2 linked regions of the Homo sapiens genome follow. The protein of the gene in region 1 purifies or fractionates together with the protein of each later gene. This does not show direct contact. Each region holds a gene or a part of one and is shown in the gene's direction. Other genes may lie near its edges.

The links.
Region 2: the proteins of CIAO2A (region 1) and CCP110 purify together in Homo sapiens (affinity purification with mass spectrometry; one large-scale study listed by BioGRID and IntAct). This does not show direct contact.

Annotation. Positions count from the first base shown.
Region 1 is NC_000015.10:64,080,242-64,083,893, reverse strand, and holds part of CIAO2A (cytosolic iron-sulfur assembly component 2A), read left to right. Parts: intron 1-2,742; coding exon 2,743-2,792; intron 2,793-3,652. UniProt on the Homo sapiens protein: Component of the cytosolic iron-sulfur protein assembly (CIA) complex, a multiprotein complex that mediates the incorporation of iron-sulfur cluster into extramitochondrial Fe/S proteins.
Region 2 is NC_000016.10:19,533,807-19,537,458, forward strand, and holds part of CCP110 (centriolar coiled-coil protein of 110 kDa), read left to right. Parts: intron 1-2,133; coding exon 2,134-3,652.

The DNA of each region.
Region 1 (3,652 bases):
TTGGCTTACTGCAACCTCTGCCTCCTGGGTTCAAGCGATTCTCGTGCCTCGGCCTCCAAGTAGCTGGGATCATAGGCGCGTGCCACCATGCCCAACTAATTTTTTGTATTTTCAATAGAGACGGGGTTTCTCCATGTTACCCAGGCTAGTCTCAAACTCCTAGCCTCAAGTGATCCGCCCACCTCGGCCTCCCAAAGTGCTGGGATTACAAGTGTGAGCTGCCACACCCGGCCTATTGGTTTTTTAGAGAATTGTATAATAGTGTATCATAGTAGTTTTGTTCAGTCAACACAGCTGGAAAACTTGAGAGAAGCCTTCGTCTGTCTGATGTGTTAACAGATATTCCTCCAGAGCAGGTAGTCCTAGCCTGGAAAGGTGCCTGAGTAAGAGTATCACCTACTCAATGTTACCTTGGTAAGTGATTGACAAGGAAGACTCCAAGGGAACAAGAGGGTAAGGCAGGGAAACAAGTTGATAATCATTTGTGGTGACTTATTCCAGATAAGAATGGCTGAAGGCAGCTGTGGTCCAATGGGAACGGTCTTAGGGTTTGGAGGTCAGAAGGTGTAGGTTTGGGTTCTACCTCTGCCACTTGTTAGCTAAGTAATGTTAAATCACCTACCTTGGTTTCTTGGCTGTAAAATGAAAATTATAAAATAGTATAAAATAGTAATATTTTATACTATTATTTTTTACTATTTATAGTAATTATTTTTATACTATTATTGTACACTTATGTGTCAGGTACTGTTTTAAACACATTGCATAACAGGTTATTCCTCATAGCAACCCTATATATTGTGATATTATTATATATATTTTTAAGTTTTATTATTATTATTATTATTATTACTTTTAGAGATGGGGTCTTGCTACGTTGCCCAGGCTGGTCTTGAACTCCTGGGCTCAAGCAGTCCTCCCGCCTTGGCTTCCCAAAGTGCTGGGATTACAGGCATGAGCCACCTTGCCCAGCTGATACTATAATGCCTGTTTTGCAGATAAGGAAACTGAAGCTCAGAGAGGTTAAGTAACTTATGCAGGATCACAGCGAGTATGTAGTGAAGCTACTTTTGAAACCCAAAGTATCTCAGTTATGCTGTACTACCTCTCTTGAGGATAATGATGCTCAAAAAAGTGCTTTGCGAATTGTAAAACACCTACCAATAGTGACTAAAATACGTGAGGATATTCAGACAGTACACAGATAACAAATTAAGGAGACAATGGTGGGGCCAGGGGAAGAGGAACTCTCCCAGATATGCTTTAAGGCAGATCCTCTGAAGAGAGACCCTCTTAAGGAAATAATATATTTTCTTTAGAATTCTCTAATATTTATTATAGAACTACTGTGTTCAAGACTCTATAAGGTCGGGCGCGGTGGCTCATGCCTATAATACCAGCACTTTGGGAGGCCGAGGCGGGCAGATCACTTGAGGTCAGAAGTTCAAGACCAGCCTGGCCAACATGATGAAACCTTGTCTCTACTAAAAATACAAAAATTAGTGGGTGTGGTAGCGTGCTTCTGTAGTCCCAGCTACTCAGGAGGCCGAGACAGGAGAATCTCTTGAACCCAGGAGGTAGAGGTTGCAGTGAGCTGAGATCTCGCCACTGTACTCCAGCCTGGGCAATAGAGCAAGACTCTGTCTCAAAAAAATAAATAAGTAAATAAAGACCCTGTGGCAGGCACCACCTCATTATATCTCATCTAATCCTTTTCCCTGTTTTGGGATTTTTCAAAAAATTCTCTTAGAAAACCAAATGGTACTTAGAAAACCAAAACCAAGTTACTACCTCCCTAAAAGATAGGTAGTCTAACAATTATATCTTGCTGTATTGCTGTATGGTTTGAGGTTTTGTTGATGTGTCTTAGCATGGGATGATAAACTGAACTTCAGTGGAACTTGTTTTAAAGAAGTTACTGTATTTGTACCTTGCAGGCATAAAGGATTACAAATTTGAGAGATTTTATGTGGCCCTTTTAAAATGGCTTTGACTTGTTTTATTTTTTTGCGTGTCCTGGCCTGTTGTGGGGCATTTTAAAAAGTTAATTGAATTGGCCGGGTGGGGTGGCTCATGCCTGTAATCCTAGCACTTTGGAAGGCTAAGGCAGGCGGATCACTTGAGGTAAAGAGTTTGAGACCAGCCTGGCCAACATGGTGAAACCCCATCTGTACCAAAAATATATAAAAATTAACTGGGTGTGGTGGTGTGCGCCTGTAATCCCAGCTACTTGGGAGGCTGAGGCAGGAGAATTGCTTGAACCGAGAGGCGGAGGTTGCAGTGAGCCGAGATCATGCCACTGCACTCCAGCCTGGGCGACAGTTCAAGACTCCGTCTCAAAAAAAAAAAAAAAAAAAAGGCTTAATGAGTTAATTGACTTTTGCTGGAAGGCCAACTGATGTAGTAAAAATGGCCTGGGCTTTCCAGTGGTCATAGGTTCCAATCCCAATTCTGCCACTGTTGTAACTCAGTGACCTTGAGGAAGTTACGTTGTGACTTTGGTTTAATAATTTGTAGAAGGGGATTAGTAATAGCTTATTGGATTATCCTAAGGAATATGTAAGATTATATATTAAATTTCCTAGCGTGGTGCCAGCCTCAAAGGAGCTCTGCTCTGGATTGAGCCAAAGCTGTTTTCAGCAACTGTGTTGTATGGGGGCACATAAACGCAGTTGTATGCTTTTTCAAGAACCAATAAGAAGCAATAAAGAGATAATTGGAGGTGTGATTTTCCCTCCACAGGGCTGTGCTTAAGAGTAAAACTTCAGCGATGTTTACCATTTAAACATAAGGTAAGAAAGATGTATTTTTGTTGTTGTTGTTGTTGTAAAACAGCTTTGTTGAGATATAATTCACATACCACACAATTCACGTATTTAAAGTGTACCAATTCAGTGGTTTTTGCTTGTCTGTTACTCAGTTGATGGACATTTAGGTTGTTTCTACTTTTTGTCTATTATGAGTAATGCTGCTATGAACATTCATGTATAAGTTTTTGTGTAGGCATATATTTTCATTTCTTTTCCACCTGTGAGTGGAATCGCCCGGTCCTATGGTAACTCTGTGTTTAACATTTTGAGGAATTGTTTGTTTTCCACAGTGGCTGCACCATTCTGCGTTCCCACTTCTCCACATCCTTGCTAACATTTATTATTATCTTTGATTACAGGCATTCTAGTGGGTGTGAAGTGATGGTTTTTTGTTTTTGTTTTTTGAATCAGAGTCTCACTGTCACCCAGGCTGGAGTTCAGTGGCGCCATCTCAGCTTACTGCAACCTCTGCCTCTCAGGTTCAAGCGATTCTCCTGCCTCAGCCTCCCGAGTAGCTGGGACTACAGGTGCCCACCACCACGCCCAGCTAATTTTTTGTATTTTTAGTAGAGACGGGGTTTCACCATATTGGTCAGGCTGGTCTTGAACTCCTGACCTCATGATCCACCCGCCTCGGCCTCTCAAAGTGCTGGGATTACAGGCATGAGCCACTGTGCCTGGCCTTGTTTTTGTTTTTGAGACAAAGTCTTGCCCTGTCGCCAGGCTGGAGTGCAGTGGTGCAATCTCGGCTCACTGCAACCTCCGCCTCCAGGGTTCAAGCGATTCTCGTGCTTCAGCCTCCCAGGCAGTTTGGATTATAGGCATGTACCACCATTCCCGGC
Region 2 (3,652 bases), on another chromosome or scaffold:
TCTACCTGGGTAGATAGGTGGCCTTCTATTTTGCAGCTATCTGTTTAGGAATAAAAGGAAGGCAGTTTTTGTGTGACTCAGTTCCTAAGCTTTACTTTTTCCTTTGACATGTGATTTTCCATTTCAGTTACTCGAAATCCCTATGTAATGAGTCTTCAGAATCTGATGAAAAAGTCAAAGGAATATATAGAAAGAGAACAATCTAGACGCAGGCTGAGAGGTAGTATTAAGAGAATTGTTAATGAGAGTCATAGTGACTCTCATGTGACATAGTTGAGTTTGGGGTCCTGAGATATTATTTCCCTTTCACAGTAGTATATAGTGTGTGGGTAGTAGATTTCATTTTGCAGATTATAATTACTGTCCATATTAAGTTTAAAAAATGTATTGAGTAGCACTAATTTAACAATAAGAGGTAGGTTTTTTACTTACTACGTATTTCCTGTGATTGAAATGAAAATGGCATATCATTCTTGGTCCATTGAGGGAAGATAAAATATACTACTAATAAAATTGTTAAAAGAGCATGTATAATGTTGAACTGTAATGAATTAATTATTCAGATAGGAAAATTTTATATAATACAATTAGATTTCTGCTTCACCTGTAAAACCTAAGATTCTATGATAGATTTTTTTCTTGTTGTTATTTAACTTGTCTAACTAAAGGCTCATTTTAGTGACGTATAAACAACATAGCTTCCGAATATCACAAATGTGAAATATTTTACGTAAGGAAATCATCTGTTTTACTTAAACCTGTGAACATGTTCATGGATTTCATAAATATGCATCCTTTTTGTTTTATTTTGGTCCTGAGGCTGTGACTAAGTATGTCTTGTACTCTTGTACTGTTGATTGCATAGTACCTGGAAACCTTTTTGCATCTTTTTTGTTTTATTTTGGTTCTGAGGTTGTGACTAAGTATGTCTTATTGTACTGTGTATTGCATAGTACCTGGAAACCATTACCTGTCTTGGGATTTGTAACGTAAAATAGGAGAGCCATGTGGTCTAGAAAAAAACAAGCACATTCAAAACAACCAAAAAATATTGTAATATTCAGACTTTTTTTTTTTTTTTTTTTTTTTTCTGAGATGGAGTCGCGCTCTGTCGCCCAGGCCGGAGTGCAGTGACGTGATCTTGGCTCACTGCAAGCTCCGCCTCCCAGATTCATGCCATTCTCTTGCTTCAGCCTCCTGAGTAGCTGGGACTACAGGTGCCCACCACCAAGCCCAGCTAATTTTTTGTATTTTTAGTAGAGATGGAGTTTCACTGTGTTAGCCAGGATGATCTTGATCTCCTGACCTCATGATCCGCCCGCCTCGGCCTCCCAAAGTGCTGGGATTACAGGCGTGAGCCACCATGCCCCGCCAGTAGTCAGGCTTTTGATGTCTGTATTCATATGATAATACAATGATTTTTGCCAGTTTAATATACGGATGTATAATTACCTTTAGAAACTATCCTAGTTCTCTTTTTATTCTTTTGCAAAGTTGGATTATTTAGATACAAAATATCTATTTTTACATTCATTCATTCATTCATTCATTCATTTTTGAGACAAAGTTTAGTTAAACTTTGGAGTAAGCATGTAGGTGCAGGAGTCTTATTACTGAATCATTTTTGCTTAATCAATGTCCTGGACAAGTTAGTCTTTGTTAGAGAGGGAATCGTTTACGTAAGACATTTCATTACTTGCTGTTTATTGCATATATTATTATCCTTGGATGATAGCTATCCTAGGAGGAACAGTTGGTAATGTTAATAACATATGACTAGAAGAAATTTAAGTGCTTGTATTCTAAGATTAAATTGCACATGGATATATGAATATATGTGTGTGTGTATACACATATATATGTTCATATTTGTATCAGATTAGATGTTTCTTTTTATAACTCTTTTATAACTCTTTTAATAACTTAGGCAGGATGACCAGTAGGCATCTTTTCAATAATAATTTGAGCCCCCTGTGATACAGGATACCGTAGAAACCTGTCATCTTAGTTTTTCTTTATGTTTTGAAATGTCAGAATTCTGAATTTTCAATTTCAATTTTATTTTAGAAAACAGTGAAATCAGAGACTTTTTGTGCAATGAGGAAATATTAATTTTTAAATTTCCTGTTTCAGGTTAGAAAAGCACCTAATGCCAGTGATTTTGATCAGTGGGAGATGGAAACAGTTTACTCTAATTCAGAAGTCAGAAACTTGAATGTTCCTGCTACATTTCCAAATAGCTTTCCAAGCCATACGGAACACTCTACTGCAGCAAAGCTTGATAAGATAGCTGGGATTTTGCCATTGGATAATGAGGACCAATGTAAAACTGATGGAATAGACTTAGCTAGAGATTCAGAAGGATTTAATTCTCCGAAGCAATGTGATAGTTCCAATATTAGTCATGTAGAAAATGAAGCTTTTCCAAAGACCTCTTCAGCAACCCCACAAGAAACTCTTATTTCTGATGGTCCCTTCTCAGTAAATGAACAACAGGATCTACCACTTTTGGCAGAAGTCATCCCAGATCCCTATGTAATGAGTCTTCAGAATCTGATGAAAAAGTCAAAGGAATATATAGAAAGAGAACAATCTAGACGCAGTCTGAGAGGTAGTATCAACAGAATTGTTAATGAGAGTCATTTAGACAAAGAACATGATGCTGTTGAAGTGGCTGACTGTGTAAAAGAGAAAGGCCAGTTGACAGGCAAACACTGTGTCTCAGTTATTCCTGACAAACCAAGCCTTAATAAATCAAATGTTCTTCTCCAAGGTGCTTCCACTCAAGCAAGCAGCATGAGTATGCCAGTTTTAGCTAGCTTTTCGAAAGTGGACATACCTATACGAACTGGCCATCCCACTGTTCTAGAGTCTAATTCTGATTTTAAAGTTATTCCCACTTTTGTTACCGAAAATAATGTTATCAAAAGTCTTACAGGTTCATATGCCAAATTACCTAGTCCAGAGCCAAGTATGAGTCCTAAAATGCACCGAAGACGTTCCAGGACATCATCAGCGTGTCATATACTTATAAATAACCCAATAAATGCCTGTGAATTAAGCCCTAAAGGAAAAGAACAGGCAATGGACTTAATTATTCAAGATACTGATGAAAACACAAATGTGCCCGAAATTATGCCAAAGTTACCAACTGATTTAGCGGGAGTTTGTTCAAGCAAGGTTTATGTGGGCAAAAATACATCTGAAGTCAAAGAAGATGTGGTTTTAGGTAAATCAAATCAGGTATGTCAATCTTCAGGAAATCATTTAGAAAATAAAGTTACTCATGGACTTGTTACTGTGGAAGGTCAGTTAACATCCGATGAGAGAGGCGCACACATAATGAACAGTACCTGTGCTGCGATGCCAAAGCTGCATGAACCATATGCCAGCAGTCAGTGTATAGCAAGTCCAAACTTTGGAACTGTGAGTGGACTCAAGCCAGCCAGTATGTTAGAGAAAAACTGCAGTTTGCAAACAGAACTGAATAAGTCTTATGATGTAAAAAACCCTTCTCCTTTATTGATGCAAAACCAGAATACGAGACAGCAGATGGACACACCTATGGTGTCCTGTGGAAATGAACAATTTTTGGATAACAGTTTTGAGAAAGTTAAACGGAGACTTGATTTAGATATTGATGGTTTGCAAA